Homo sapiens: one gene and its partners. The protein of the gene in region 2 binds, or shares a complex with, the protein of the main gene of each other region. Each region holds a gene or a part of one and is shown on either strand. Other genes may lie near its edges.

Region 1 (10,648 bases), on a different chromosome or scaffold from region 2:
TGTCAGGCTGGAGTGCAGTGGCGCGATCTCGGCTTACTGCAACCTCCGCCTCTCAGGCTCAAGTGATCCTCCCACCTCAGCCTCCTAAGTAACTGGGACCACAGGCGCGGGCCACCACGCCCGGCTAATTTTTTTTTTGTTTTTGTATTTTTTGTAGAGACGGGGTTTCGCCACGTTGCCCAGGCTGATCTTGAACTCCTGAGCTCAGGTGATCCACCCGCCTCGGCCTTCCAAAGTGCCGGGATTACAGATGTGAGCTACTGCGCCCGCCGATAATACAATTTTCATATGCTTTGTAATTGACTAGTCAAAAACTAATATACTTCTCAAGTCATTACTTGGGGGCTGGAGAACTTGAGTCTTTTGTTCTTTTCTTTGTTGTTCTAATGCTTCCTTTTTCTCACTTAGAGGTAATCCCTAAAGAGAGAGGAAATGTCATTGTAGGGCATCCTAGAGAATTGGAATGCTAATATGTAGAAAAATAACTTTTGCTTTGGTTATTGGGAGACTTACATAACTTTCTTGGAGTTGGCTTGTTTTTAACACCAGCTGGCAGCCAAATCACTGTCCATTTGGGTCTTGCCGCGAGAACCTCAGAGTAAATAAGACAAGTAAAACAAAGCATTCATTAAGCAAAGGTTTTTATGGTTGATATTTTAGTGTGGGAGAGGCAGATACAATTCATGTTTGATAATACAGCAAATCTGAAATTTTTGTCAGTTGCCACAATTTGGATAACGATCGCTGGAGTTTACCCTACACAGTGATCTGAATCAGATTATTTTGGATGCTTTCCTTTTAGTTAAAAATCTATTTTTTAAAAAATAAATCTTAGAAGCTTAAGGATTATAGAAGGCTATTTTAAAATAGGGTAGGAATTATTACAGTCAGAATTAAATAGATGCATCTGAGCATTTCTGGACAATTGTCAGCTGCTGTCAGTCACTGCCCTGACTTTCCGTATGCTTGACTCTCTATATATAGAGTGTGTGTATATATATAAACTATAATAGAATGTATTATATATATTTATATATTATATAAATTTATATTTATATATTATAAATTTATATTTATATATTATATAAGTTTGTTTATTATAAGTTTTATATAAATATATACTCTAATATATATTTTACATATAATTATATACTGTATATATAGAAGCAAGCATATGGAAAGTAATACATATATATATATATATATATATATATATATATATATAAAATCATTTATTCAACAAATACTTAACAGTGCCAAGCTCTGTCCTAATTACTTGCCATACAGCAGTGGACAATATAAAGATAGAGCCTCCCCTCTAGAGTAGAGAGAAGACAGTCAAGTAAAGTATAGTGTATCATATAGTGACAGGCGCTATGGAGTGATACCAGGTAAAGAGGGGAGAGATTTCTGTGAGGGAGAAGTTACTATTTTATGTAAGTTGATTAGAGAAGGCTTCGGTGTGAATGGCATTTGAACAAAGACTTGCCGGAGGTAAGGTAGCAGCCATATAGCTGTATGGGGAAAAGCTGTGATCCAAAGGTAACCATGGGCACAAAAGCCTGAAGACTATAGGGTTCCTGTCATGTTAACAGAAGAGCAAGGAGGCCAGTGGTGCTGGAGCAGAGTGAGTGAGGGGGAAGTTGTAGGAGATAAGATTAGAGAGATAGCAGAGGGTTGCATCTTATAGGGAGATTATAAAATTATACTTCTGTGTTGAGACTCGACTATCAAAGATTAAGGGGGGTAGGATTAGGAGGCTATACCAATGAAGTTCATGTAGTAGTCCATTTATAAACAAGGAAAAGGAAATGCTAAATGGAAAGTAATGTGTATGGATACTAGTCCAGTGCTAAATCTTAACTAATTGCTTAGACTTGCTTTAAAAATGTCTCTGAAGCTTTTTAGTTACTATGGGATATGCAGTCCATTGTTTGTTCTTTTAAGAAAGTATTTAGATTGTTCAAAATCTTAGCTAGAAACAATACGAATACAATTTTGGGAATTTGGGCAATTTACAAAAATTTCAGATTTGCTGTATTAGCCCCATTTAAGCTTCTTAGAATTAGGTCCTTGTCTTTTGGACTGTGGCTGATTTTTTTACTTAACTAAAGAAAAAAATAGAAGTGAAAGGATTTGTTATTTTGAGAGAGTATAGTTTATTTCAGAAGTGATGGTTGCCTGTTTTAAGTCTGCGGGCTCAAGGCATGTTATCTTTCAAGTTGTTCAATATCAAAATAGATGAGCCAAAAAGAAGGGAACAGTGTGCTTAAGGTTTAAAAACGTAATGTTGAAGTTGTTGGTTTTAGTTACTTTACTTTTCTATTTTACAGGGTTGGTTTTTGTTTTCCATTTTGTGGGTCTAAAATTTCTTGTAAGGCTATAAGATGTACAGTGTACCCGTATAAAATTAGGATTGACTTATAGAGGGGAAATTTATTTGGTTTATTAAGATCCTTTCAGATGGATTTTATACCTGCTTCTCTATACTAGCCAAGTCTGTCTGAGTGAAGTGGTAATGTTATCTTTAATTTACATTTTAAAACTTTTACATAGTTAAATTTTAATAAAAAATCTGTTCTTGCCTTGGGAACTACCATAGATACGTTTTCTTCAGGGTACATTGAGCGAATTCCCCAAATTGTATTCGTATTGTTTTATTTCATTTCCCTGTTCCCTTACCCAGGTTGTCTTATGAGTTCAATATCATGTTTCTGTTCGTAAGTTCAGATTTTGTCTGTAGTCTTCACCCCTTTATAGTCTCTCAACTATCAGGTGAAAGTGGAACATTTCTTACCTCTTAATACTTTCTGCCTCCTCCCATTCTCCAGACAAATATTGTCCTTTAATATAGCCAAAATGAACAAAGGGTTTGCAGTTCAGAGATGTGACTATGTACATGTATTTTCTAGTTGTTTCTCAGAAATCATACCTTCTCTTCCCACAGCACTATTTTCCCCTTTTCAAGCTTATAAGAGGGCCTAGGAGGGTTGCTTTAAAGGCTGTGGTATGATTCCAAACTGGAACAAGCCAGCTGGAAAGTTAAGTTAGGAAGACTGTAGAGGTGGAATAAAGGGTTGGCAAAATAGATGAGCCAGAAAGAAGGGAACAGTGTGCTTAAGGTTTAAAAAACAGCAACAAAAAATAACTGCTCTCATTCAGCTAGTTTTTCAGCATCTGCATTCTCCCAACCTCACTGAAATTTGGTTCTGAGGAGCTCTGCTTTCTAGAATACGGTTTCTTAACATCAGCACTATTGACATTCTTGGCCAGTTATTTGTTTTGGGAGATGCCCTATGCAACGTGAGATATTTAGCAGCATGCCTGGCCCCTACCCACTAGATGCCAGTTGCTTCCCCTAGTTTTGACTACTAAAAATGTCTCCAAGGTTTGCCAGATGACCACTGGGGGCAAAATCTACACCCTGTTGAGAACTACTGCTGTAGAAGAAGGCTATTTGAATGTCCTAGCTGGCAGCTTGCGTAAATATTACATCAATTATGCTTTTTTTCAATAAGTGAATCCTGGAAATGAAAGACCTTTGTGTGAAATTTGGCACTTTGGGTGGTGGAACCTTGATAGGTCCTGTGACTTAGGTTTGATCTATACTTAAGAATCAAGGTCCCTGAACCTCTGTGCCACACATGTCTACAACTTTACACAGGCAGATATCTCCAGGAATAAATACATCTCAGCTCTCATGCTGCATGCGTATTATACTTTTTGTGGCATTATCCTTTCAAAATTATAGTCAGTGGACATTCAGTCAGGTTATCATGGTAATTAATGGGTTGGGAAGTTGACGTACAGAGTGTCTTACCCTGTAACCTTTATAATACCCCCCCTCAGATCCTATGTGGATAGTAATAGATTCGTTTTATTCAGCTTCAGTTCATGTGGTATCTGAAGATCATTTCAGTCATTCAATAGATTTAACATTCCAAGCTTAGAATAGCCAGGTGCTGTGTTTTATGAGAATCACCATACATCATTTTCAAGCCAAGTGTTCCATAGGCAAGTAAGTGATTATGAACTTTGTAACAATAATTCCTTTGGCTGTTCAGATCTGAAGATTGAAGTTATATGTAACTTGCTACTGTGTAACCATATATCCAACTGCAGATTTTCATTATTAATACCGATTCCCTGCACAGTTACAGGCTCTTGCTTTCTTGTCCATATGCCGACCAAATAATTGAATCAATGGAAGTCGAAAATTGGATTGTATTAGACTAGCCAAAGTGTTTAGCAGCAGCATCAGGTTCCATACTTAACACTATTATTTTAATTTTTTAAGCTTTATGTTATACCACAAAAGGACTTAGGTGAGTGTGTTAAGGCTTTAAACAAAGTGGTAAGAGATACAAACAGCAAGGGTCTTAATAGACAGGTGTTTGAGGTTAATTTTTAGCACACCTTCATTCAACTTGAATTGTTGAGCAATCAAAAAGACAGATGCTTGGTAATGATTTTAGAATGGTAGATTTAAAAAACATAGAGATTATTCGAATGATATGGTTTTTAAATAAAGCAGTTATCAGTAATTCAGTTAATAAAAGCTAGTTAAAGCAGGAATTGTAAAACGTGGTCCTTTTTTCCACCAATTTTTTGATATAGTGCTCAGGACTTTTCTTTGAATATACGTATACTGACTGTCGTTCCCATTATTTAGGATAAACTATACCGTTGTGCTGCATCATATGCAGAACTGAAATTGTTAATTGAAGACTTGAGATTAGAGCTTAGAAACATGTGAAGCAAGTGAGAAATCCTAATGTTTTATGCTCCTTTTTCCCATCTTTTGAAGCTTTCCTCTTTATAGCTGATATGACAGCTTTTTTTTCTGATCAAGTCTTTCCAAAGCATTCGACTTGGTTTTGCACCCTTATTTTGTCATTTACATAATACATTATTAGACTAATGAATACTACTGGTACTAACAGGTTTCGGAACAAGCAACTGAGGATCAGTAAACAACTCAAGTTAAAAGAATGGGAGTAGCGGTACATGAGTATTCTAACTACTAGTGTTTAACATGTTGTTGGCAGCTTTCCAGCTTGTCCACAGAAATGGACAGGGCTGCTGATTGCATAGCTCCATGGGCACTACTCACACAAAATTTAACATAAATAATGCCTCCTGGAGTTATTGTATATAGTGGCTCTGGGAATGGGAGGCTGTTGGTTAATCTAGCTTAGTCTGAGAAATGGAGGGTCTGTGAAGAGCTTCTACTCTGTAAAAACATAGGGCCTGGTAGAAAAGAGATTATAACCTAAAAAGGTTAAATAAAATTTGTGATAGCAGATTTATCATGTAATGTTAATTTTTTATGTTGCTGAAATAGGTGGGCAGCCTCACAAAAGGAGAAAGACCTCTGATGCAAATGAAACTGAAGATCATTTGGAATCTTTAATATGTAAAGTAGGAGAAAAGGTATGTCACACAATAGGCACAGGCTGTGATGGGTTTAAGAATGTGGTTAACTGTGCTTTGATTAATTTTTGCAGCTGAAAAGTTGGACTACATTTTGGCAAAGCTGGTATTACCATGCATCTGTATCCCAAATTGAATCCATGTTGAAGCCCCTGGGATGTAGATAATTGATCATTTTTAGTACTTTAGTAATTAATAATTTTCATAGAAGATGAGCCCTTAGAAGGGACCTAGGGTATAGACCCCTTAATTTATGCATGAACTAAATCAGCCCTGAATACTTGAGGTAATTTGCCCAGAGTAAGAGAGTGAATTAGTAAAAGAGGTAAAATGGAGCCCATGGTGTCCTCCCATTTCTAATACTTATTCTGTTATCATAGACTGCTTAGTTTTTAAATTTCACTCGTCCACTTTTCATGGATTTCTGAAGAACAATAACTATCTGAATTGATTTATACTAAACCCATTATAGCTCTGTATGCATGTAAGACTATTTTAATGATCATGCAGAAGTTTTTATTTTAGTTCACTAAAATAGCAATTGAAAGGACAGATGATTGGTAATGATTTTAAAATGATAGATTTTAAAATATGTATATATTTACATTTAAATAGATTTTTAAAAATAAATTTATGTTGCTGAGTACTTGACAGATATTTAATGTGATGTCCTCTACAGAGTGCCTGCTCTTTGGAGAGCAACCTAGAAGGCTTGGCTGGTGTTTTGGAAGCTGATCTTCCTAACTACAAGAGCAAGATCTTAAGGCTTCTTTGTACAGTGTATGTATGCAAAAGATTTATGAATCCAGGTGATAATGTATTATCTACTCTTAAATGCTTTGGGAAATGTTCAAAATACATGTTTATGTTCTATATGTCCTTGGCTTTACTTCTATGGGGAAATTTGTACAAATGAGCCAACCTTTGGCGCTTTGGCGAACTCTTTTTCTTAGGGATAAAACTAAAATTGAACATTTTCCTTGTATGTTCTTACAACCTTAGAATCATTTTAGTTGACTTTTTATAGAGATAGTAGATACTGTCTCATTCAGATATATATTTTTAAGCATGTACATTTAAATGTATGATACTTACATTTTTAAATTAGTACCAGACAAATTTGGGAATTGGTAACTCAGGTAATAGCCCTTCTTGGAAGACTGAAGATGCTTTGGAAGCCACTGTTAATAGGCATACTCTCTGGATAAATGGGAGTCTTTGTAGTTACATGAAATTGTAATGTATCCATGAGGTGTTTTTAAATTATGAAGGTGATGTTTATCACTTCTCAGCCTTTTAGTTTAGATCAAGTGAAGGTAACTTTAAGAAACTACTAAGGAAATCTTCTGAAATCCTTTATTAAAATGGAGTAGTATTTACACTTAAACTGTTGGAAGCCTTGTTTGTTTAAGGCTGAACTTGTATTGCTTCGCAGTGTTCTTTTTTAATTTTTGGTTTTGGGAGGGTTTCAGGGACCACAGTTACCATCAACACAGGTATTTTTTTTGAAGACCTTGATTGTCCCTGATGTTCTGCTAGGTACTTTAGGAAAACAAGTCAAAGAGAATCTCTTGCCCACTTAATGATTATGAATTCTTATTGCTTTTTGAGCTAATTCTAAAGGCTGCCTAAATTAGGAAAAATTGCTTTTTCTAAAGGTTTATTGTAATCCTTTCCCATACTTTTAAAATAACTTTAATGAAATCAGCACACTTGGAGTAAGCAACTGAGACGTAAACAAATCTTAACTATATCAGAGTATGTTTTTAAAAAATTCAATAATTAAACTGGTAGGAACTTAGATGAAACTCGTTTTAATTGTGCATCTTTTCTAAACAACTAGAATAGTGTTTCTCAAAGTAGAATTCTAGTTCCATGACATTTGGTTAGCTAAGTTTAGAAATTCTGAATGCTGCACGCCCCCCCTTAATGATTCTGTATTAAAGAGGCTTGTTTCACCCAGGATTTCTGAGCTATTTTACCATGGAAACCATGTTCTGTGGAAATGCTATTCAGTTCCACTAAGCACACTTGAAGAAAAACTGTTGTAGCATTAGTTTTATTTATTTCAGTATGATAACTTTACAATTAAATCATTTACTTTCTTAACTCTTAGATTAACTGATGAATTAAAATGAAAAATTACGGGACTATGTCTGTAACATTTCTCAATGACATGCTTTTTCTGAAGTATTTTTAAAGACATAGCTAAAAGTAATCCTGTTCCAAAGTTAATGGAATGATAAAAAGATTCACATAAAATTCAGCAACTTAACGCCATTGTTTTGGGGTTTTCTTGTTATACTGGGTTCTTAAATCAGTGCACGCCTATTACCTGAGAAGCTGACAATTTATACAACATTAGTTGGACTACTGAATGCCAGGAATTACAATTTTGGTGGAGAATTTGTAGAAGCCATGATTCGTCAACTTAAAGAATCATTGAAAGCAAACAATTATAATGAAGCCGTGTATTTGGTAAGTTAGTTTGTTTGTTGGTATGTTATGACTACTGTTGGGATGGAGGGAAAAGGTGAACTACAACCAAATAATTTAAAATGCTCTCCTAAAACATTCTCATTCACTTTCATAGCTTCATAAGCCACCTTTATTTTGACGATACCCCCAAATCTGTAACTGTATCTCCAACCTTTCTCCTGAGCTCCAGTCCAGTATTCCAGATGCTAGCTGCATAGCCTTCAGATACCTTACTAGGAAGTGCCTAAATTAATGCATCATTCATACCTCCTTTTTTCTGCCCTCTCCCCAGCTCATACAGTGGCCACTGTGTACTGAATAACCCATCTAGAAAGCTGAGCATTAATTTTTGTCTTCCCTTTGCCCTCTCGTACCATAGGTGTTCCCAATCCCTGTCAATTCTGTCTCCCTAATTTCTCTCAAGTCTGTCCTTTCTTAGTCTCCAGGGCCTCTAGCATAGTTTATGCCTTCCTCCAGATGTTCTTAATAGCCTCTTAACTGATCTTTTTGCATCTAGATTCTCTGCTTTTCACTTTGTGTTCTACAGTGGCACCAGACTGGTCTTTCTATAACTAGGCTCTGCACATGTTGGTTACTGGTTAAAAAAACCTTAGTTCCTTCCCATTGTCTACAGTGAGTGGTCTTAAAAGCCTGGTGCACAAGATGATTCCTTGGGTTTCAGGAAGTGAATATTAAGAACTCTTATTTATCTTAAGTGGAAATGAAATTAAACCTTACTAATAATACATAGATTAATGGTGATCCAGTGTATATCATAAATACATATGTATGTGTTGAAGATATGTGATCAAATTCTTTTTTACTGAGTACACAATCAAAAAAGTTTGGACACCCATCAGGCTATAGGATTAAAGTCCAGACTCTTTAGCCTGACCCTTTATGGTTTCCCCAGTCTGTTTCTCTATTCTTGTCTCCCATATGCTCCCCAGCAATATCAAAATAACTTGCAGATCCCTAAACACACCTTGTTTTTGAACCTCTATGCCTAGACTGCCCTCCTTGCTCACTACTTGAGGCTGTTGCTATCCTTTATGACCTAGCCTAATTGTTACCTCCTTTGTGATGCTTTCCCCAACTCCCTTTGTCATTGTTCCTAAAAAATGCTTAATTTGCCTTTTAGTGTGGGAGTCATTCCTTTGTATTGAGATTGTGCTTGTTCCACTAGAATGGGTCCCCTAACAGTGACTTTTAGTAGTGTTTAGCAATAGCACACTAAGCACACCCAATAAATATGTGTTCTGTAATTTCCATTTCTGTAATTCAGTGAAAATTACAGCCAAACAGAAAAGGAGATTATAGGTTGAAGTAGCTAGAATATTTTACAATCTGGATTCTTGATGTAGTATAGCATAGAAACGTATGAACTCACAGATTACTGTCCTTTATATAGTCTTTGTTACAACTTCTCAATTCTGCCATTGTAGCACAAAAGCAACCATAGACAATATGTAACTGAATGAGCGTGGCTATTCCACTAAGTTTACTTATGGGCACTGAAACTTGAATTTCATGTAATTTGTATATGTCATAAAATACTCTTGATTTTTTTTTCACGCATTTAAAAATGTAAAAACCATTTTTAGTTCCCAGCTATGCAAAAAACAGGTAGTAGGCTAGATTCAGCCCTTAGGCTATAGTTTTTTAGACCAATAGTTTAGCCTATACAAGATTGCTTATTTTGTAGTTATTATAAAGAACATTTAGGTTTAATAGCAGAAATTGTTTGCCCCAACAGGTCCGTTTTTTATCTGATCTTGTGAATTGTCATGTGATTGCCGCCCCATCAATGGTTGCTATGTTTGAAAATTTTGTAAGCGTAACTCAGGAAGAAGATGTACCTCAGGTAAGAGAACCCCTCATGCTGAATCTTGAGGGGTTCTTGAGGGGTTACTGAATCCTGGTACTTCCATATAGTACCAGGAATTTTTCGCTGATAACCCATTAGCAATAAAGAAAAAAATAACAGCAGACTATCACACTTTAAGTTCTTACTATCTAAAAATTAAGCTGACTGGCACACTGGTGGGTTCTCATAATATCTGTATGTTGATTTAAATGATGCTGTCTAGTAAGATTAGAACTAATATATCTAGAAATGCTCTGTATAAACCAGATGTCTTATTTAAGTCCTATTAAATAGCTTCCATAGGATTTCATTCAAGAATAAATAAAATATGAATGAATATAATTAAAGCATATTTTAAACTTAACTTTTTAAAAATCCTTTAGGTGCGACGAGATTGGTATGTGTATGCATTTCTGTCATCTTTGCCCTGGGTTGGAAAGGAGTTGTACGAAAAGAAAGATGCAGAGATGGACCGCATCTTTGCCAACACTGAAAGCTATCTTAAGTAAGGGCACAGCTCATAGTACTCTTTGTTGCTTAGGTAAAGGATATCTTATATCAGTGATACCATTTGAGTTTCTCAAAAATAAGCTGTAGAGTTCCTGAAGGTATTTTCTAGGTAATCCTGTTCTCCTGCTGTTTTAACTCACTGAGACCTCAAAGTAGTCAGATATGGTTTGCTTACTTTTGCCAGTGCAAAGGACAGTTGGCAATATAGCTTCTTTTAAGCTGCTTTTATATGTTTGTTTATAAAAGACATAAAACACCCTAGTGCAATAGTTCCTCAAATATTAGTGTGGATAAGAATTACCTGTGGTACTTAAAATACTCAGACCCCAACCCCCAGACCTGATAAATTATACAATTTGA
Region 2 (10,669 bases):
CCTCCTGAATAACTGGATTACAGGCACACGCTGCCACGCTTGGTTAATTTTTGTATTTTTAGTACAGACGGGGTTTCACTAAAACCCCAGTTTGTTGGCCAGGCTGGTCTCGAACTCCCGACCTCAGGTGATCCGCCTGCCTCAGCCTCCCAAAGTGCTGGGATTGCAGGCCTGAGCCACCGCGCCTGGCCAAGGGGCTGGTTTTGGAGCAGAGTCAGAGGTCTGGGACGTGGAATAGGTAAGGGCAGGGCAGTGCGGGGGAGCAGGATAGAACTGCCCATTGGGGCTGAGCGCGGTGGCTCATGCCTGTAATCCCAGCACTTTGGGAGGCTGAGGTGGGTGGATCACCTGAGGTCACGAGTTCGAGACCACACTGACCAACATGGAGAAACCTCGTCTCTACTAAAAATACAAAATTAGCCAGGCATGGTGGCACATGCCTGTAATCCCAGCTACTCGGGAGGTTGAGGCAGGAGAATCACTTGAACCTGGGAGGTGGAGGTTGCGGTGAGCCGAGATCGCACCACTGCTCTCCAACCTGGGCAACAAGAGCAAAACTCTGTCTCAAAAAAAAAAAAAAAAAAAAAAAAGAACTGCCTACGGGCCCCTGGGCTGAGATGTTCTCAGATGAGCTTTCTAGCTGGAACTGCCTGGCCACCTTCAGAGACATTATAGCAGTCCCCAATCTTTTTGGCACCAGGGACCAGTTTTGGGGAAAACAATTTTTCCATGGACTGGGGAGGGGGATGGGAGGGGGTGGGAGGGGGATGGTTTCAGGATGATTCAAGCACATTACATTCATTGTGCACTTTATTTCTGTTATAATAATAATAGAATATATAGTATATATAATTGTTTCGGTATATATTACAATGTATATTACAATGTAATATATACCGAAACAATTATACAATTCACCATCATGTAGGATCAGTGGGAGCCCTGAGCTTGTTTTCCTGCAACTGGACAGTCCCATCTGGGGGTGATGGGAGACAGTGACAGATCATCAGGCATTAGATTCTCATAAGGAGCTTGCAACCTACATCCTTCGAACACACAGTTCACAATAGGGTTCATGCTCCTATGAGAATCTAACGCCGCTGCTGATCTGACAGGAGGTGGAGCTCAGGCGGTAATGCAAGTGATGGGGAGCAGCTGTAAATACAGATGAAGCTTTGCTTGCCCATTGCTCAGCTCCTGCTGTGTGGCCCAGTTCCTAACAGGCCATGGCCTGGCGGCTGAGGGCCCTGGTATTACAGCATCAGGAGCTAGAGTAGGACCGAGCCCGATTCCCACCTTCCAGGTGCCCCTGAGCCAGCCTCCAGAGGATGAGCTGGATAGGCTGACGAAGAAGCTGGTTCACGACATGAACCACCCGCCCAGCGGGGAGTACTTTGGTGAGCTGAGGCTGTGGGGTGGGTGGGACGTGGGAAGGGAGGCTGGGAGACAGAGGGGACAGTGGCTTCCTGGGTCTGTGAAGACTGATGCTGTTTCTCCCTGTCCTCAGGCCAGTGTGGTGGCTGCGGAGAAGATGTGGTTGGGGATGGGGCTGGGGTTGTGGCCCTTGATCGCGTCTTTCACGTGGGCTGCTTTGTATGTTCTACATGCCGGGCCCAGCTTCGCGGCCAGCATTTCTACGCCGTGGAGAGGAGGGCATATTGCGAGGGCTGCTACGTGGTGAGTGGCTGGGGCTGGGAGGAGGGAGTCAGTGGCTGGATGCAGGGGGCTTCCATCCAAGGTGGTAACTAGAGCGTCCAAGACCAAAGGAGGAACGGTGCTAAAAGCCAGGCGACTGAAAGTGATGTACAAACAGGGCGGAATTCTGCAAGTATCAAGCAAGTAGCTTAACACTGGTGGCTGAAGGGAAGGACGCAGCTCTTACAAGTGTGGAGCATCTTACAGTTAAAGAGAATGTGTTAGATTCCCATGACACCCCTGTGAGGCAGGTATTACTACTGATTCCTGGTTTTGTTTTTTGTTTTTTTTTGAGACAGTCTCGCTCTGTTGCGCAGACTGGAGTGCAGTGGGGTGATCTCTGCTCACTGCAACCTCAGCCTGCCCTGGTTCAAGCGATTCTCATGCCTCAGGCTCCCGAGCAGTTGGGATTACAGGTGCCCACCACCACACCCAGCTAATTTTTGTATTTTTAGTAGAGACAGGGTTTCGCCATGTTGGCCAGGCTGTTTTGAAACTCCTGGCCTCAAGCAGTCCGCCCACTCTGGCCTCCCAAAGTGCTGGCATTACAGGCGTGAGCCACTGCACCCAGCCTGATTCCTGTTTTTCTCATAGTGTTTAAATACCGTGTATAGTGCTGGGACCTGAACTCAGATCTGCTCAAGTCTGCCTTTCACCGAATCACATGCAGGAGGCTGCATGCAGGAGGCTGCAGAAATTAGATGGCTGGGTTGCTGGGGTTCCTGTTGAGCTGCCATGGCTCCCGCCCGCTCCCAGATCTTCCTGCCTTCCTTCCCAACAGGCCACCCTGGAGAAATGTGCCACGTGCTCCCAGCCCATCCTGGACCGGATCCTGCGGGCTATGGGGAAGGCCTACCACCCTGGCTGCTTCACCTGCGTGGTGTGTCACCGCGGCCTCGACGGCATCCCCTTCACAGTGGATGCTACGAGCCAGATCCACTGCATTGAGGACTTTCACAGGTCAGGCCTGGCCTCCACCTTGTCTCACAATGTCTGACCTTTCCTGTCTCTCTCATCTCTTCATGCCCCAGGACTGTCTCTTCCTGTTTCCAACCCTGGCCCTCCTTCGTTCTTTGTTATTGTTATTTTTTAGAGACGGAGTTTCACTCTGTTGCCCAGGCAGGAGTGCAATGGCATGATCATAGCTCACTGCAGCCTCCAACTCCTGGGCTCAAGTGATCCTCCTACCTCAGCCTCCTGAGTAGCTGGGACTACGGGTGCACACGCCACCATGCCTGGCTAGTTTTCTTCGTTTTTTTTTTTTTTTTTTTGAGATGGAGTCTCACTCTGTCACCCAGGCTGGAGTGCAGTGGCACGATCTCAGCTCACTGCAACCTCCACCACCTGGGTTCAAGTGATTTGCCTGCCTCAACCTCCCCAGTAGCTGGGATTACGGGCGCATGCCACCACGCCTGGCTAGTTTTTTTTTTTTTTTTTTTTTTTGTATTTTTAGTAGAGACAGGCTTTCATCATGTTGGCCAGGCTGGTCTCAAACTCCTGAGCTCAAGCGATCCACCTGCCTCGGCCGCCCAAAGTGCAGGGATAGCAGGCGTAAGCCACTGCACCCAGTCTTCTTCTTTGTATTTTAATAAAGACAGCGTCTTGCTGTGTTGCCTAGGCTGGTCTTGAACGCCTGGCCTCAAGTGATCCTCCTGCCTTGGCCTCCCAAAGTCGGGGGATTGCAGGCTAGAGCCACTGCACCTAGCCTCTCTCATTCTCTTTGACATCGTCCCTTCCCCAAGACCTAAGGCCATACCTCTGGCCTCTCTGATTCCCTCCTGTGCCCCACCTTCTCTGGGTTCCATTGTTGGTGCCCTGCAACCCCAAGGCTTGATGGCCTTCTTGGTTCTCTTCCCCTGCAGGAAGTTTGCCCCAAGATGCTCAGTGTGCGGTGGGGCCATAATGCCTGAGCCAGGTCAGGAGGAGACTGTGAGAATTGTTGCTCTGGATCGAAGTTTTCACATTGGCTGTTACAAGTGCGAGGTCAGGGGCCCCCAGCACGTGCAAGGGGCTGGCAGTGTCTAGGGTGCTGGGTAGAGCATGAGGGGGAACACAGAGGTCTGGGGTTGATGGAAACCTGTTGCTTCTTTCTTTTTTTTTTTTTTTTGAGACGGAGTCTTGCTCTGTTGCCCAGGCTGGAGTGCAGTGGCACAATCTTGGCTCACTGCAACCTCCACCTCCCGGGTTCAAGTGATTCTCCTGCCTCAGCCTCCTGAGTAGCTGGGATTACAGGTGCTGGCCACCATGCCTGGCTAATTTTTGTATTTTTAGTAGAGACAGGGTTTCACCATATTGGCCAGGCTGGTCTTGAACTCCTGACCTTGTGATCCTCCTGCCTCGGCTTCTCAAAGTGCTGGGATTACAGGCGTGAGCCATCGCGCCCGGCCAATTGTTGCTTCTTTTTCAACAGGAGTGTGGGCTGCTGCTCTCCTCTGAGGGCGAGTGTCAGGGCTGCTACCCGCTGGATGGGCACATCTTGTGCAAGGCCTGCAGCGCCTGGCGCATCCAGGAGCTCTCAGCCACCGTCACCACTGACTGCTGAGTCTTCCTAGAAGTACCTGCTGGGTTCTCAGTTCCAGTTCCCATCCTTTGATTGATCACTCTCCCTGACATCCACCTGTATGACTTTGTCACCAAATGCTGTCTTCTCTTTCTCCAATCAAGAAATAATAATCCCTCGAGTTTACAAAACACTTCCAAGTCTGTTGTCTCATCTGATTCTCCCAGTAGCCCATTACAGGCCCAGTCATTGTTACTGCCTGCATTTTTTTTCTTTTTTTTTTGAGACGGAGTCTGGCTCTGTCACCCAGGCTGGAATGCAGTGGTGCCATCTCGGCTCACTGCAACCTCTGCCTCCCAGGTTCAAGTGATTCTCTTGCCTCAGCCTCTTGAGTAGCTGGGATTACAGGCGCCCGCCACCACGTCTGGCTAATTTTGTATTTTTAGTAGAGACGGGGTTTCACCACCTTGGTCAGGGTGGTCTTGAACTCCTGACCTCAAGTGATCTGCCCGCTTCACCCAACCAAAGTGCTGGGATTACAGGCGTGAGCCACCGCCCTTGGCCACTGTCTGCATTTTTACATGTGAGGATGTCAGAGCTGAGAGGTGACTCCCCCAGATTGCATGGTTCTTAAATGGTGGAACCTGGGTCTTTTTGACTCAGGTCCAGTTTTTTTTGACAACTCTTGTAATCCGTCACTACCCTCCTCTCAGTGCTGGGAGCAAGCACGCCTCAGGGAGGAGGCAAGATTTCCTCTATGTATCTATTTTGAGACAGGGCCTCACTCTGTTCCCCAGGCTAGAGTGCAGTGGTGCAATCAAGGCTCACTGCAGCCCTGAACTCCTGGGCTCAAACAGTCCTCCTGGCTTAGCCTCCCCAGTAGCTAGGACCACAGGGGCATCCCACCAAGCCCAGTTATTATTTTTTTGTGTGTAGATGGGATCTTGCTATGTTGCCCAGGCTAGTCCTGAACTCTTGGGCTTAAGTCCTCCCTCCTCGACCTTCCCAAGTGCTGGGATCACAGGTGTGAGCCAATGTGCCTGGCCCTAAATATTCTGTAAAGGGGCCTTGCTATGTTGCCCAGGCAGGTCTCCAACTCCTGGGCTCAAGTGATTCTCCCACGTCGGCCTCCCAAAGCGCTGGGATTGCAGGCGTGAGCCATCTCAGCTGGTCTTCCTATTAAGTCTCACACTCAATTCACTGAGAGGGGCCTTGGTGTTACTCCCGGGGGTGGTAATCCATTGAATCTGGGCGGTCCATACTCTGTTTAGGGCGTTAACTTACAGCCTATTTCATCCAAATACTGAGCGGGGTTAAGACTGAGATCTGCCAATTTTACTTAAAGACGGGGCGTCTTTGTCGAGGAAAAGCAGGAACGGCGGACTTTGCATTTAGTGCGCACTGTGGCACCCAATTTTGGCTGGATATTTGGAGCAGAAAATGGTGGGATACGATGCTTTAAAATGGTTGCTTCCACCTTCCATCCCCTAAGCGCCCGCGCTTCCCAAGCCCACGCCCTGCCCGAGGAGGGGACGAAATCACCCCCGGTGAGGTCAGGAGGCCCGTGGGGGGAACATGGCTGGATGAGAACCGTCTTAGGACCCCGACACATCTGGGGTCGCGCGATCCTCGACTTCCGCTCTCCCTTCGCGCCCAGAGGGCTTGTTCGCCTCCCGAGGCCGCGCTTGGCCCAGCCGAGGTCCCGTAGTTCCTAACGCTCGAGCCGTTATCGTCTCGAAAAGCCGCGCGAGACTTGCGAGATCCCCGCCCCTTTCCCATCACGCCCTGCTCTCCCCGCCCTTCGCGCTCGGTTTGTTAGTTCCAGTTCCGGCCGCGAGGGTGGAGCTTTGTGCCTCGGAGGCGTGGGTGACGCAGGCGCAGCGCGGGCTGCGCGCGCTACTGCCCATCCCCGGTTGTCCCACTTTTGTTCGCCTCTCTTCGGCCCTCTACTCAAGAGCTCCGTCTCCGTCTCGCCCTCCTCGAAGTCCTCGTCGCGCGCCCGCGACCCAGGTCGCCCTGAAATCTAGCCCGTCCGAGCGCGAGTCCAACGGCCGCGGCCGCACCAAGGTGGGGGAGGGGAGGAGCCTGGGGGGCCCCGCTGGGGCGGGAGAGGAACCGGGGTCCACGGGGGCGGGCGCGGAGAAACTCGGGGCGAGTGGAGGTGTTGGAGCCGCGTTCTCAGGCCTAGGATGGTGGGGGCCGCGGAGGGCTGGCCTTGGCGGGAGGGAAGCGGGCGAGCTGCCCGCGAGGGACGGTCCCTTCCTCCGCTCGTCCTTTTGCACCACTCCTACCGCCTCTCCCCGGTCCCCAGGCCCCCTCAGACCGTGCCATGGGTGACAGTGATGACGAGTACGATCGAAGGCGCAGGGACAAGTTCAGAAGAGAGCGCAGCGACTACGACCGTTCCCGCGAGAGAGATGAAAGACGTCGAGGGGACGATTGGAATGACAGGTGAGCCGTTTTTAACTTCATCTTGTCCCCGTTTCATGCCGTTTCACTCCACCCGCGTCGCTTTTCTTTCTCCCCCTTGTAATTTTTATGAGGGCGAATCCTATGAAATGGCTCATTGGACCGTTTTCTGTGGTTCAGCCTATTTGCTGTTGGCCAAATAACTAGCTGTGGCTTGGTTTTTGAAATTCTCTGCAGATCAGAGCTATAGAGCTAAGAGTTTGAGTATGAAGAAGCACTGTTTATACATGCACGAAAAGCGTGCTTTTTTGCTTTTTTTTGTTTTGTTATTGAGATGGGGTCTTGTTCTGCTGCCCTGGCTGGAGTGCATTGATGCAGTCGTAGCAGCCTCCACCTCCCGGGCTCAACCGAGCCTCCCGCCTCAGCCTCTTGAGAAGCTGGGACTCCAGGGGGAGGCCATCACGCCCGCCTAACTTTTAAAAATTATTATTGTTATTTCGAGACAGAGTCTTGCCCTGTCGCCCAGGCTGGAGTGCAATGGCGCAATCTTGGCTCACTGCAACCTTCGCCTCTGGGGTTCAAGTAATTCTCCTGCCTCAGCCTCCCGAGTAGCTGGGATTACAGGCACCTGCCACCACGCCCGTCTAATTTTTGTATTTTTAGTAGAGACGGGGTTTCACCATGTTGGCTAGGCTGGTTTGGAACTCTCGACTTTAGGTAATCCACCCAGCTCGACCTCCCAAAGTGCTGGGATTACAGGCATGAGCCAGTGCTTGGTCTAAAATTATTTTTTGTAGAGACAGCGTCTTGCTCTGTTGCCCAGGTTGTAAATTATATTTTAGGAGGATTGCTTCAGAAAAATAATAATATAGAGTTGATCTGACTGGAGAGGTCGTCAGATTATTTCCCTGACAATATATGATTAGGTTTCTTGTCACTGTTTTGCCTAAAATCTCAGAGTTCATAGGGCGGTGCTGATTGGATTGATTATAAGATGTGGTTATTGACCTTAGGGTGTTACAGTGAGCTTGGCATGGGGGATCAGAATGGCAGTGGATGTATTCTGTAAATGAGTATATATAGTGGAAGTTATAAAGAGGGTAAGCATTGAGGGAACAGATCTCTAAAGGAGGGGAGCGGTGCTGGAGGTTGTGTGTCAGGGACCCACTGGAAAGTGACACTTGGCTAGACTTGGAAAGATGAGTGGGAATTCCCCAGACACGAGTGACATGAACAGCTTGGAGTTGTGGACATAACGTGTGATTTTAGCATATTCTAGTTTGGTTAGAGTCCTGTTTCTCAGGATGTCCACAGACCATAGGGGGTCTCCGAGGCTAAAATTAGTTTTTGTGGTAATGTTTACATATTATTGCCATTTCCACTGTTGGTGCCATAGCAATGATGGGTAAAACCGCTGATGCTTTACCAAACATCAAGGCAGTGACAGCAAAGAGTTAAAAAAAAAAAGCCAGCCGGGCCCAGTGGCTCACACCTGAAATCCCAGCACTTTGGGAGGCCGAGACGGGCAGATCACGAGATCGAGAGATTGAGACCATCCTGGCCAACATTGTGAAACCCTGTCTCTACTAAAAATACAAAAGTTAGCCAGGCATGGTGGTGCGCGCCTGTAGTCCCAGCTACTTGGGAGGCTGAGACAGGAGAATTGCTTGAACCCAGGAGGCACAGGTTGTAGTGAGCTGAGATCACACCCCTGCACTCCGGCCTGGCGACAGAGCAAGACTCTGTCTCAAAAAAAAAAAAAAAAAAAAAAGCCACTTCCATCAATGATTCTTGATGAAAGAGTAAAACATTTAAATTTGATTAGATTGGACTCTTGACTGTACGTCTTTTTTAAAAAAATTTTTTTTTGACACAGAATCTTGCTCTGTCACCCAGGCTGGAGTGCAGTGGGGCGATCTCAGCTCACTGCAACCTCCACCTCCTGGGTTCAAGTGATTCTCCTGCCTCAGCCTCCCGAGTTGCTGGGATTACAGGTGCGTGCCACTCTGCCTGGCTAATTTTTGTATTTTTAGTAGAGATGGGGTTTCACCATGTTGGCCAGCTGGTCTTGAACTCCTGACCTCACATATCCACCTGCTTCGACCTCTCAAAGTGCTGGGATTACAGGCCCGCGTTAGTTGTCTTGAGCAAGAGTACGCATGTGATTGAGTGAGCTGAACTAACAGCTTTTTTCCATGGGATGTTATTTTTACTTGAATGAATGACAAACAGTGATTGTTCATACTTGGGTATTTGGCAGACATCTTGAAAATGAACTGAGAACCTGTTACTTCAGTGTAAGCTGTTGGTATTTGTTGCCAGTGATGAAGTAGAACTTTCCAGTGAAAATTAAAATTTTGGGCCGGCGCAGTGGCTCATGCCTGTAATCCCAACACTTTGGGAGGCGAAGGTGGGTGGATTGCTTGAGCCCAGGAATTTGAGACCAACCTGGGCAACGTGGTGAAACCTGTCTGTACAAAAAAATACAAAAATTAGCTGGGGGTGGTGGCACATGCCTGTAGTCCCGGCAACTCCGGAGGCTGAGGCGGGAGGATGGCTTGAGCCTGGGAGGTGGAGGTGGGAGTGAGTCTTGATGGCACCACTGCATTCCAACCTGGGCAACAGAGAGATACCCTGTCAAAAAAAAAAAAAGGAAATTAAAATTTTGGAAAACTTCTACTAATGTGAGCTTGACAGCTTCCCATTAAGTAAAGACTTTCTTGGTGAGATAGGCAGTGATGCTGATGAGTACATTTTGATATTGGGTGAGACATAATCCAGGTCCATTGAAAGGGAAAGATAGAACAGTGGATTTTAATGCAGCAGAGAAAGAAATATTCACTGATACTATTTCAGATTGAAGGTTCTAACTAGCCTGTGAGAAACTACTTCCTTCTTGGACAAGGTAGCATAAAGAAAAGAAAAAAAAGAACCTACCTCTTGTTGAATTTTGGGTAGTATCCAAAATGAATATCTACAGTTAATCTGAAAAGGCCTTTCCAACTCCTTATCAGTATGAGGCCTGATTTTCTGTTTTTTTTTTGAGACGGGTCTTACTCTGTTGCCCAGGTTGGAGTGCAGTGGCACGATCATGGCCACAGATCACTGCAGCCTTGACTTCCCCAGGCTTAGGTGATCCTCTCACCTCAGCCTCCTGATTAGCTGGGACTACAGGTGTATGCCATCACACCCAGCTAACCTACTTTCTTCCTTCCTTCCTTTTCTTTTCTTTTCCTTTCTTTTCTTTTCTTTTCCTTCCTTTCTTTCTTTTTCTTTCTTTTCTTTCTTTCTTTCATTCTTTCTTTCAGATGGAGTCTCACTCTGCCCAGGCTGGAGTATAGTGGCGTGATCTGGGCTCACTGTAACCTCCATCTTCCGGGTTCAAAACGATTCTCCCACCTCAGCCTCCCGAGTAGTTGGGATTACAGGTGCCTGCCACCACGCCCGGCTAATTTTTGTGTATTTAGCAGAGACAGGGTTTTGCCATGTTGGCTAGGCTGGTCTCAAACTTCTGACCTCAAGTGATCTGCCTGCCTTGGCCTCCCAAAGTGCTAGGATTACAGGCATGAGCTACCACTTCCAGCCAGCCAGCTAAGTTTTGTATTTTTAGTAGAAAGGTGGTTTCACCATGTTGCCCCAGCCTGGTCTTGAACTCCTGGGCTCAAGCAATCCACTGCTTCGGCCTCCCAAAGTGCTAGCATTCATTACAGATGTGAGCCACCATGCCCGGCCTGCCTCATTTTTCAAGCAGAACAAAATATCTCAACAGATTCAGTGTAGAAGCTATCCTCTACAAAGCCAGAACTTGGAGAGATTGGTGACAATGTAAAAACAATGCCACTTTTTCTCACCAAAATTTTTCTGGAAAACGATTTTTCATAAAAACATGTAATGTGTTTCATCTTACTGTGTAATTTAAAAATGAAGGTTTTGGAACATTTCGTTTTAATTTTGAATATAGTAAGTATCGATAGATGTAACCCACATAAGCAGAAACTCTTTGGTGTCCTCAGTCATTTTTAAGAGTATTAAGGGGCTGAGGCAGGAGAATTGCTTGAGCCCAGG
Region 3 (10,449 bases), on a different chromosome or scaffold from region 2:
AAAAGACAATGAACTGCTAGTGACATTCCTCAATGACCTCTCCCAAACCTCCCATGATGCCTTACCCTTGCTGTCATGACAACCCTCTGGCTTCCTAAGACCCATCTGCCTATCGAAATATGTGCAAGTCAGTGAGACGAAGTATAGAGAACAGGTGGCCCAGATCCAGGGGACCCAACTTCTGGCCCCTTGGTCTGTCACCTCCTCGCTGTGTGATCTTGAGAAAGCTCCTTCCACTCACCCACCCCACTTCCCAGTCTGTTGGGATCAGAGGAACTTTGAGGTGTCTGCCGGCTAACATTGTGTCATTCCTGGAGTCCACAGTACACGTCCCCTGCCTCAACAGGCACAGCTCTCACAAAGCTCTTCAAGCATGGAAGTGGGAGTTGTGTTGTACTTCATGGCACTCTGATGCCTGCTGTCTCAGTGTTTGGTTATTATGCAAACAAGTAATGTTTGAAATATATAATAGCACTGGAGATTTTCTCCCTACTTTCTTTTACTCCTGTTCCTGAGAGGTGGTGGGAAACTCTCCAGCCATTTCTGCACCTTGTCCTTAAGAGTCATTCTCCTGGCTGGGCATGGTGGCTCACACCTGTAATCTCAGTACTGAGAGGCCAAGGTAGGCAGATCTCGAGGTCAGGAGTTCAAAACCAGCCTGGCCAACATGGTGAAACCCCATCTCTACTAAAAATATAAAAATTAGCCAGGCGTGGTGGCACGCACCTGTAATCCCAGCTACTCAGGAGGCTGAGGCAGGAGAATTGCTTGAACCCAGGAGGCAGAGGTTGCAGTGAACCGAGAGCCACTGCATTCCAGCCTGGGAGACAGAGCAAGACTCCGTCTTGGGGGAAAAAAAAAAAAAGGGGGTCATTTTCCCAGATTAGGGAGCCAGGTGTTCTTCCTCCTTAGAACTGTGGGTCTCAAGCCCTCCCATCCTGCCCCAGAGGGCAGAGAACACACAACACTCAGCTAGTGTCTGGTTACCAGCCTCAATTTTTCCGATGGCTTCAAGCTTTCTAGATTGCATGATTAACTGTGCTGCCTAACTAGAAATGATCAGAGCTGGGTGTGGTGGCTCACACCAGTAATCCCAGCACTTTGGGAGGCGGAAGCAGGAGAACTGCTTGAGGCCAGGAGTTCAAGACCAGCCTGGGCAACAAAGTGCAATGCCATTTCAACCAAAAACAAAACAAAACAAAATTGTGGCTGGGCGCGGTGGCTCACACCTGTAACCCCAGCACTTTGGGAGGCCGAGGTGGGCAGATCACAAGGTCAGGAGATCGAGACCATCCTGGCCAACGTGGTGAAACTCCGTTTCTACTAAAATACAAAAAATTAGCCAGGCATGGTGGCACGCACCTGTAGTCCCAGCTGCTCAGGAGGATGAGGCAGGGGAATCACTTGAACCCGGGAGGTGGAGGTTGCAGTGAGCCGAGATCGCACCACTGCACTCCAGCCTGGTGACAGAGTAAGGCTCCGTCTCAAAAAAACAAAAAAAACAGAAAAAAAGTTTTTAATTAGCTGGGCATAGTGTCATGGGCCCGTAATCCCAGCTACTTGGGAGTCCCAGGGAGGAAGATCGCTTGGCCCAACGGGTCGAGGTTGCAGTGACAGCTAGTATTGTGCCACTGCACTCCAGCCTGGGCAAGAGTTAGGTCCTGTCTCAAAAAAAAAATCAGAAATTTAGCTAGGAGCTTCAAATGACAGGACATTTCTATATACAATGGATTTCCTAATCGCAGGTCTGCTAACTGGCTGGATCGTAGTCTGTCTGTATCCCTGACCCTCTAAAATGAGGGGTAGTGAAGGGGTGGGTTGCCCCTCCACACCTGTGGGTGTTTCTCGTTAGGTGGAAGGAGAGACTTGGAAAAGAAAGAGACACAAAGTATAGAGAAAGAAAAAAGGGAGCCCAGGGGGCCGGCATTCAGCAGACGAGGATCCCGCCGGCCTCTGAGTTCCCTTAGTATTTATTCATCATTCTTGGGTGTTTCTCGGAGAGGGGGATGTGTCAGGGTCATAAGATAATAGTGGAGAGAAGGTCAGCAGATAAACACGTGAACAAAGGTCTCTGTGTCATAGACAAGGTAAAGAACTAAGTGCTGTGCTTTAGATATGCATACACATAAACATCTCAATGCCTTACAGAGCAGTATTGCTGCCCCCATGTCCCACCTCCAGCCCTAAGGCGGTTTTCCCCTAACTCAGTAGATGGAACATACAATCGGGTTTTACACCATTGCCCAGGGACGGGCAGGAGACAGATGCCTTCCTCTTGTTTCAACGGCAAAGAGGCGTTCCTTCTTCTTTCACTAATCCTTCTCAGCACAGACCCTTTACGGGTGTCACGCTGTGAGGGACGGTCAGGTCTTTCCCTTCCCACGAGGCCATATTTCAGACTATCACATGGGGAGAAACCTTGGACAATACCTGGCTTTCCTAGGCAGAGGTCCCTGTGGGCTTCCGCAGTGTTTGTGTCCCTCGGTACTTGAGATTAGGGAGTGGTGATGACTCTTAACGAGCATGCTGCCTTCAAGCATCTGTTTAACAAAGCACATCTTGCACCGCCCTTAATCCATTTAACCCTGAGTGGACACAGCACATGTTTCAGAGAGCAGGGGGTTGGGGGTGGGGTTACAGATTAACAGCATCTCAAGGCAGAAGAATTTTTCTCAGTACAGAACAAAATGGAGTCTCCTATGTCTACTTCTTTCTACACAGACACAGTAACAATCTGATCTCTCTTTTCCCCACAGGATAGGAGTCCAGGTAACTTGTTCCATGGCAGGCAGTAGTCTTTTTTTTTTTTTTTTTTTTTTTTGAGAAAGGTTCTCGCTATGCTACCCAGGCTGGTCTCATCTCAGGCTCATGCGATCCTCCTGCCTCTGCAGTGGCTGGGATAAGACACAACTGCCACCAGGCCCTGCCCCTAGGCAGTAGTCTTAATGCCTGATGGTGGGGGGTTGGGGAAGGAAGGGGTTGAGTATCAGGGTAAATGCTGCAGAGCTGTGTTAAGGACTTAGGCCCTGGAGTCAAATGCCTCTGCTCACATCCCACTCTGCAAGACTTTGGGCAACTTAAGCAGCAGCCTCTGTTTCCATCGCAGTGGCTCTTGCCTATAATCCCAGCACTTTGGGAGGCTGAGGCGGGAGGATCACTTGCGCCCAAGAGTTCGAGACCACCCCATCTCTACAAAAAAATCCAAAAAGTAATCTGCTTCCTCATGTGAATGTCGTTGTAAGGAGTGAGATAACACATAGAGTGCAATGAGCAAGTCCCAGCACAGAAGACTCATTTCATAAAATACGTGTTTATTATTACCATAGGCCTACAGTCCCCGGTATTCTTAACACATCTTGCCTGAGAAGTATCACACTCATGCCTATCAACCAGCTCACACATTTAATCAAAGGAATTTGGCAGCTGTAGGGTTGTCTTTTCATCCATATCGTCCCTGGAATTAACTGTCCTGCTATACCAGTCAGATTGAGCAGCATCTGTCAAGAGTTTCAGTCCCACTTGCAGAGGAAAGGCTCTCTGGCTTCGGTCCGTGGCTCTCCGTAGGTGCCGTGTCTGGACCCAGCCTACCTTCATCTCTGTTAGGCTTAGGGCTGTCTCCACACTGTGTCTTGTCCAATCACAAGACTTCAACGGAGCGGGCGGTCTGGCCTAGGCTCTTATGCGTGGGATGTCTGCAGGCCAACAATCCCAGTCGGGATTCGAAGCCGCGCGCAGTGCCCGGAATGACCCCTCCACATTGATGCCACTGTAGAGCCCGGAAGGAAAAGCAAGCGGCCTCGGCCCCGCACAGCCCAGGATTAAATGTTTGCGCCAGGGCCCCTCTGGCTACCTGGTGGTGGCCCCGAGCGGCCTCGGAGGCCGCGGCGTAGCTCCTGGGTGAAGGCGTCTCTAAATCGCTCAGCGCGGCGGCACAGGGAGCCCACGGGCCCAGCCGCGAGGTCCTGCAGGCGGCGGGCCGCGTCCTGGCCCCGCAGCTGGGCCTGCAGCAGTGCGAAGGCCGTGAGCTGCGCCGCACGTCGGATAGGCCGCGACTCTGACAGACGTTCCACCAGCTGCGGGCTGTGCAGCAGGGCGGCCAGCAGCCGCCGCAGCACCATCTTCTCCAAGCGCCCGGAACCCGACCTCGCCGCCCTCGTCTTCCGCCCCGCGGCGCCCGACCCGGACGTCTATGCCCCCGCGCAGCTTGATGACGACACGCCGCCCTCGGATTGGGTCCAATGAGATGCTCGCCTCCGCGCGTTTCCGCTTCCGCCATCGCGGACGCAGCCTCGTGCCGGGAGTCGCCGCATTGTGGTCCGCTTCTCTGCACTATGTCGGGTGGCCTCCTGAAGGCGCTGCGCAGCGACTCCTACGTGGAGCTGAGCCAGTACCGGGACCAGCACTTCCGGGTGAGGGAGGCCGGGCCGCGAGACGGGAAGGCCCTGGGCAAGAACGCTGAGAAACGGTTTGCTCTTGTCTCATTGTGTCGCCTCCCATTCAGCTGAAATCCGCAAACGCCAAGTGGGGCCCCGGTGCCTGCTGGCGAGGCAGGGAATGGGTGCTGGAAGGGCGCTTGGATATCACTGAAGCCACTTGCTCTGGAAGACGGGGAACTGGAGGCTCGCTTATCCCATTCGCTCGCAGCCGCTCCCTGTACCCCAGCCAGTGCCGAGAGGTTTGAGCGGTGGTGGTGGTGGCGGCTCCCGTTTCCACGGTTGTGCCTCCGCAGACGACTACGTAGCAAGGGGGAGGGGTGCCCTTCTCTCTCCCAGAGTAGGCAGAGGCGCCTTCCTGATGCAGATGCGGGGCTTTTTGCTTTGTTTTTTAAATCGGCGAAGCAGTGCCCTTCGGCGATTCGGGCCCCTTCTCTGGGAGGATGGTGTTACGGAAGCTGTACGCGGTGCGTGGGAGACACAAGTGGAGTCCTCACTCCGCCCTCGGGGAAGCTTCGGAGTGGGGAGGTGGACCCGCCAAGCTCGGCACTTTGAGGGTGTTCGGATGTAAAGATCGGAGAATTGCTGGATTTCAGAAGAGGGAAATTTTTAGTCCGGACTATATCACAGTATATTTTGTGGAAAAAGGGGAGGCAGCAGATATTCAAAGTAGACTTTTCAGTATCAGCGGAGGTAGGGATGGAATACGGTTGGGGGTTGGCGGGGCGGGACTCATTAACCCAATTATTTAGTAAACGTTTATCGAGTGCTGTCGCCAAATCCTTGTGCTAAACCCTAGAGGGAGAGGGAAGACAGTTTCTGCGCTCTGCGAGCTCATAATCCCCTGTAGTGAGGATTCAGAAAAGGGAAAAATCCCCTTGTGACTGGGAAAGGAAGGGGCGCATATAGCAGAGGGTAAGTGTGGAGAATGTGTGAAATGTGTTACTAGAGTAGGGAAAGGGAAATTTTGTTTGACGCTAAATTAGGGAAGCTCTTAGATTTATTTAGTCAAGGCTGGGAACGGTGGCTCACGCCTGTAATCCCAGCACTTTGGGAGGCTGAGGCGGGTGGATCACGAGGTTAGGAGTTCAAGACTAGCCTGGCCAAGATGGTGAAACCCCGTCTTACTAAAAATACAAAAATTAGGCGGGCGTGGTGGCAGGCGCTTGTAATCCCAGCTATTCGGGAGGCTGAGGCAGGAGAATCGCTTGAACCGGGGAGGTGGAGGTTGCTGTGAGATCGCGCCACTGCACTCCAGCCTGGGCAACAGAGCGATATTCCTTCTCAAAAAAAAAAAATTTATTCAGTTAATGTATTTTATTTTTTGAGACAGAGTCTCGCTTTATTGCCTAGGCTGAAGTGCAGTGGCGCAATCACGGCTCACGCAGCCTCAACCTCCTGAGCCTAAGTGATCCTACCCACCTCAGCCTCCTGAGAAGCTGGGACCACAGGCTCGCGCCACCACATCCAGCTAATTTTTTGTAGAGACAGGGTCTCCCTGTGTTGCTCAGGCCAGTCTCGAACTCTGGGACTCAAGCGATCCACCTGCCTGGGGCTTCCCAAAGTGCTGGGATGCCTAAGTGCCAGGCATGATTTGCACTTCTACCACTTTTAGTTACTACTTTAGACAGTTCCACATCCTGACCATTTTGAACTTAAAGCATCCTGTGAGATGAAAACTGGAACCTTCTGACTTTGTCTATTATTCATCTCCTCAGTCTAAACCTGTAGCTTTTTTTAGATGCTAATGCCATACTGTCATGTGGAATTTCTAGCATTCTGTGAATGGAATCCATATTAATATACTTTAAGCACTTACACCACAGTTATCTTAAACTGTAGGCTATTTATTTGGATCTTACTTACATGTGTGAGAAAAGTAGAAAAAGAAGATGCCTCCTTTCCATGTTCACAAATCAGTAACAGCAGTAAAATGAAAGGAATTTACTTTCTCTAATGTCTCACTCCAAAGTTCCGAAAACCTCTTTTTAACATACAATGACTATTGTCCTGTGGACTTTTTTTTTTTGAGATAGAGTTTCACTCTTGTTGTCCAGGCTCAAGTGCAGTGGTGCAATCTCAGCTCCCTGCAACCTCCACCTCCCAGGTTCAAGCGATTCTCCTGCTTCAGCCTCCCGAGTAGCTGGGATTACAGGCGCCCGCTGCTACCATGCCCAGCTAATTTTTGTATTTTTAGTAGAGACAGGGTTTCATTCACTATGTTAGCCAGGCTGGTCTCAAACTCTTGACCTCAGGCGATCCACTCGCCTCAGCCTCCCAAAGTGCTGGGATTACAGGCATGAGCCACCGCGCCTGACCCCGATGAGCCATTTTGGACCCAGGGCTTTGTCTGTCAGGTGTGTTGGATGAAGCCCAGTTATATGCTTAAGTCTCTGGCTTCATCCTGTCATCCCAATTTGGAAGCCCATTAAGAAAGTGAGCTCTGTTTTGTTTTTAGTGATCACTACATTTTCCCCTAAACTCAGAGAAAGATCTATGAGCACGTAAAGCATCAAGGTTGTGGCTTTCAACAGTCTCTAGGGGGTTATTAAAGAGGAACTCTCTCTCTCTCTGAAAACCCACTTATTTTTCACTACGAAGGATAAAAGGGCCCTTTGTCATATATTGGGTCAAGGTCCAGAGTCTACACTTGGGTTTAAAGGATGCACTGCTGAGGATATGGTGTGTGCAGGGAAAAGGGAAGCCGCTTGCGTGGCAGTCGGGCGTAGAAGTGACTTTGTTGTATGTGGTATAACTTTTGAGCCCTGTCTCTACTAAGAGTCTGGACTTCGCATAAGTGCTTCACAGAAGGTCGACATCCCCCTTTTTGGGCAAGGGATTTCTGGTAGGCTGGGATGAGAGAAGTTGATTTCCAAACCAGAATTAATGAATGTCTCTACCGTACTTAGAAATACTATTTAAGCAAGGCTCTGAAGTTGCTTAACTTTTGTCTCTATTTGAAATTCTAGGGTGACAATGAAGAACAAGAAAAATTACTGAAGAAAAGCTGTACGTTATATGTTGGAAATCTTTCTTTTTACACAACTGAAGAACAAATCTATGAACTCTTCAGCAAAAGTGGTGACATAAAGAAAATCATTATGGGTCTGGATAAAATGAAGAAAACAGCATGTGGATTCTGTTTTGTGGAGTATCCTTCCCATGGATCTAATGTAGCTGCTGAACCAGGGTAGAGCTGAGAGTGGTAGCTCATAAGCGTCCCTGCACTCGTCCCTACGTTTTCCTTCATCTCCCTCCTACTTTCCACCCAGTGTGTCTCTGCCCTTATACTGTAAAGCTGATACTATTTATATTCTCTTCTGAAATCCATGCTTTATGGTTCTTTAACAAAAAGTTTTTCAAGAATGTTTGCCCTTCACGTAAAAAAAAAAAAATTCCAAAGAATGTAGTGAAAATATAAAAATCTCGTACTGTTCTAAACCCCTAATGCCCTTTGCCAGAGGCAGTCAGTTACCAGTTTCTTGGGCGTCTTTCAAGAAGTAACCCTGTGGGTGTGCGGTAGTGTATTTCATGTGCTGTTTTTAAAATCATTTTTTTATTTTTTATTGTTCCATTTCAGCATATGTAGGTCTTTTTTTAAAATAGCTGTACAGCTGGGCATGGTGGCTGGTGTTTGTAGTGCCAGCTGCTCAGGAAGCTGAGGCAGGAGGATCAGTTGAGCCCAAGATTTCAAGGCTGCACTGAGTTGTGACTGTGTTCCAGCGGGGGTGACGGGTTAAGACCCCATCTTTAAAGAAAAAAACTTTTAAGTAAATAGCTGTATAGTATTTCATTATATAGATGTATATAACCTGACTGTATAGGTACAAACCAAAACTATTTACTTTGATCATTTAATTCCCTTACTCAGACTCTTTTAAGTATTGGACCTCTTGGATTTATCCTATGTTCTTTTTACTGTATGTTTTGGTCATTCAATTTAATATTCTGAGAAATTTTGCAGGCCCAATTTAATATATCTTTTGAATTTTTTCCTGTGCCCTGAATTATGTTTGTTTCGGTTGAAATTTTTCCTTAAGTGTCTGGTGATCCCTGGATTTCTGCTCATAATTAAGGAAAAGAATGCTGACTCACTGGACCCAGGCAGGGCTTCTCTCCCAGATTGCAGGCTTGCCTCGGGGATACACAGGTTTCCCAAATGCTAGAATGAAAAGAGATTTTATTTTGGCTTGCTAACATCAAAGATACTAGTTTCTCCAGATGGTTTATTCAGAACACTGTTGTCTTATTTTTATTTGTCTGAGATTAAATGTCTTCCCCTTTAATTAAAGGGAGGTCTCTGATGAAGTAGGTTTGGGAACTGCTACCTTGGTGACAGCTTGAGTCTTTCCTTTAGTGAAGTGCAGCACAATTCCACGTGCACGGTGACCTTCTCTTGATTAGGGTGCCTTGGAATGTACAGAACCTAACTTGAATATACAGCACTGGTTTCTTGGATAAGAAGTGTACAGTGATCTAAACTTGCAAACCAAAATACAGAGATGATGGGACCAAAAATTATCAACAGGAATGTCCAAGAAATATGATCAGTGTAGCCATGGATACGTGTCATATTTGACTCTATGTGCTTCCAAACCAATCGCAAACAGGCCTGGGCAAGCTGAATTACTGTCTTTGAACTCCATCTGGTTGGATTAGCTCTTGTACTTTTTAACAACTCAGCTTCATTTACATGTTGTTCCCCTATTTCCAGAAATGTTTGGAAAAATGCTAGTGTTCCTTAATACTTAAGATATTACTCACGCGCAGATGCGGAAAACGCCATGCGGTACATAAATGGGACGCGTCTGGATGACCGAATCATTCGCACAGACTGGGACGCAGGCTTTAAGGAGGGCAGGCAATACGGCCGTGGGCGATCTGGGGGCCAGGTATGCAAGAAGGGTCTCTGGGCTCAGCCATTGCCTGGGATTCCAGTCACAATGACAGGTGTTTTGGCAATTTGTATTTACTCTTTTGTAAATAACTTTGTGTCTATAACCTTGGCTTGAAGTGGATCTGAAAACCACCCAACGGTTTGGGTGAATTTTTTTTTTAAACCGTGAAATGGTATGTTCTGTACGTTTCTAACAAGCAACCATTCTTGAACTTCTGCTAGGGCTAGGTATCTTCCACCTGCAGGAACATCTAAAATGAAAGCAAAACGCACTGAAGTGAGCTGAAGTGCATATGTCCTGCTTGAAATGTTCACATTGTGGCATCTGAACAGGTTTCACTGTTTGTCTAACATGTTTGTGGGAGGCATATTTGTTACACCATTCTTTTCCATACTGTAACTCTGGATTCTTTCCATTAAAGGTTCGGGATGAGTATCGGCAGGACTACGATGCTGGGAGAGGAGGCTATGGAAAACTGGCACAGAACCAGTGAGTGGTGAGAGCTCTGTCAGTGACAAACACTCCTTTGGCCTGTTGAATTTGCTGAAGAACATCACCTAAAGTCTGCACACGAGCCCATTTTTACCAAGATTTGATCAGTGTCTTTACTGAGCTGGAAGCCTCTGAAAGTTATTAAAGGACAGAATCCAAAAGAATGCCTTTAATTCTTGTCTGAGAATCTTGGCCATGTGTCAGATTATCAGAACAATTTTGTTACCAGGTCAGAAATTGTGTTCTTTGACAACAGATTGGATCTGTAATGTTGATTAGTCTTTAGCCATAACCACTACACTTTTAGAAAGACAGAAAAATGTAAGAATTTGTTTTTACCATAATGAGTCTTAAGTAGGTTCATGATCTACATTGGGGCCTGGGATTATTTTTTTAATTTTAAGTTTGCATGAGATAGCCTAATAAATGGAGGTGGGGCCAGGCATGGTGGCTCACACGTGTAATCCCAACACTTTGGGAGGCTGAGGAGGAAGGATAGCTTGAGGCCAGGAGTTTGAGACTAGACTGGGCAACATAGCAAGACCCCGTCTCTACAAAGCACAACGAAAAACAACAAATGGAGTTGTGCTATGTTGTATTGCTTTGCACAAAATTAGGAACAGGTG

What was found.
Region 1: the proteins of SRRT (region 2) and NCBP1 are in contact, whole or in part, in a cryo-EM structure (PDB 8PMP), measured with the Homo sapiens proteins. Residues at the interface, in NP_056992.4 of Homo sapiens: Asp857, Pro858, Arg859, Val862, Glu863, Tyr864, Arg865, Asp866, Leu867, Asp868, Ala869, Asp872, Asp874, Phe875, Phe876; in NP_002477.1 of Homo sapiens: Tyr461, Gln463, Lys511, Lys557, Ser558, Ser560, His561, Ser564, Ala567, Lys568, His570, Lys607, Ile609, Arg610, Thr611, Gln612, Met648, His651, Glu705.
Region 3: the proteins of SRRT (region 2) and NCBP2 are in contact, whole or in part, in a cryo-EM structure (PDB 8PMP), measured with the Homo sapiens proteins. Residues at the interface, in NP_056992.4 of Homo sapiens: Asp857, Arg859, Ala860, Ile861, Val862, Glu863, Tyr864, Arg865, Ala869, Asp874; in NP_031388.2 of Homo sapiens: Ser48, Phe49, Tyr50, Thr51, Thr52, Glu53, Gln55, Lys67, Met71, Leu73, Met76, Lys77, Lys78, Thr79, Ala80, Tyr89, Asp107, Glu121.

Annotation. Positions count from the first base shown.
Region 1 is NC_000009.12:97,635,450-97,646,097, forward strand, and holds part of NCBP1 (nuclear cap-binding protein subunit 1), read left to right. Parts: intron 1-5,344; coding exon 5,345-5,433; intron 5,434-6,112; coding exon 6,113-6,213; exon of another isoform or gene 6,214-6,219; coding exon of another isoform or gene 6,220-6,242; intron 6,243-7,754; coding exon 7,755-7,911; intron 7,912-9,667; coding exon 9,668-9,775; intron 9,776-10,161; coding exon 10,162-10,283; intron 10,284-10,648. UniProt on the Homo sapiens protein: Component of the cap-binding complex (CBC), which binds cotranscriptionally to the 5'-cap of pre-mRNAs and is involved in various processes such as pre-mRNA splicing, translation regulation, nonsense-mediated mRNA decay, RNA-mediated gene silencing (RNAi) by microRNAs (miRNAs) and mRNA export.
Region 2 is NC_000007.14:100,869,067-100,879,735, forward strand, and holds the start of SRRT (serrate RNA effector molecule homolog), read left to right. Parts: upstream 1-6,036; 5' UTR 6,037-6,262; intron 6,263-6,279; exon of another isoform or gene 6,280-6,384; coding exon of another isoform or gene 6,385-6,387; intron 6,388-6,497; exon of another isoform or gene 6,498-6,506; coding exon of another isoform or gene 6,507-6,524; coding exon 6,525-6,646; intron 6,647-10,669. Other genes in the region: TRIP6 (thyroid receptor-interacting protein 6), read left to right, coding at 1,304-1,397, 1,508-1,677, 2,477-2,655, 3,558-3,678, 4,106-4,237. UniProt on the Homo sapiens protein: Acts as a mediator between the cap-binding complex (CBC) and the primary microRNAs (miRNAs) processing machinery during cell proliferation.
Region 3 is NC_000003.12:196,936,386-196,946,834, reverse strand, and holds the start of NCBP2 (nuclear cap-binding protein subunit 2), read left to right. Parts: upstream 1-4,306; 5' UTR 4,307-4,331; coding exon 4,332-4,409; exon of another isoform or gene 4,410-4,876; coding exon of another isoform or gene 4,877-4,900; intron 4,901-5,692; exon of another isoform or gene 5,693-5,861; intron 5,862-6,707; exon of another isoform or gene 6,708-6,958; intron 6,959-7,402; coding exon 7,403-7,584; intron 7,585-9,186; coding exon 9,187-9,325; intron 9,326-9,752; coding exon 9,753-9,824; 3' UTR 9,825-10,449. Other genes in the region: protein NCBP2AS2, read right to left, coding at 3,819-4,118. UniProt on the Homo sapiens protein: Component of the cap-binding complex (CBC), which binds co-transcriptionally to the 5' cap of pre-mRNAs and is involved in various processes such as pre-mRNA splicing, translation regulation, nonsense-mediated mRNA decay, RNA-mediated gene silencing (RNAi) by microRNAs (miRNAs) and mRNA export.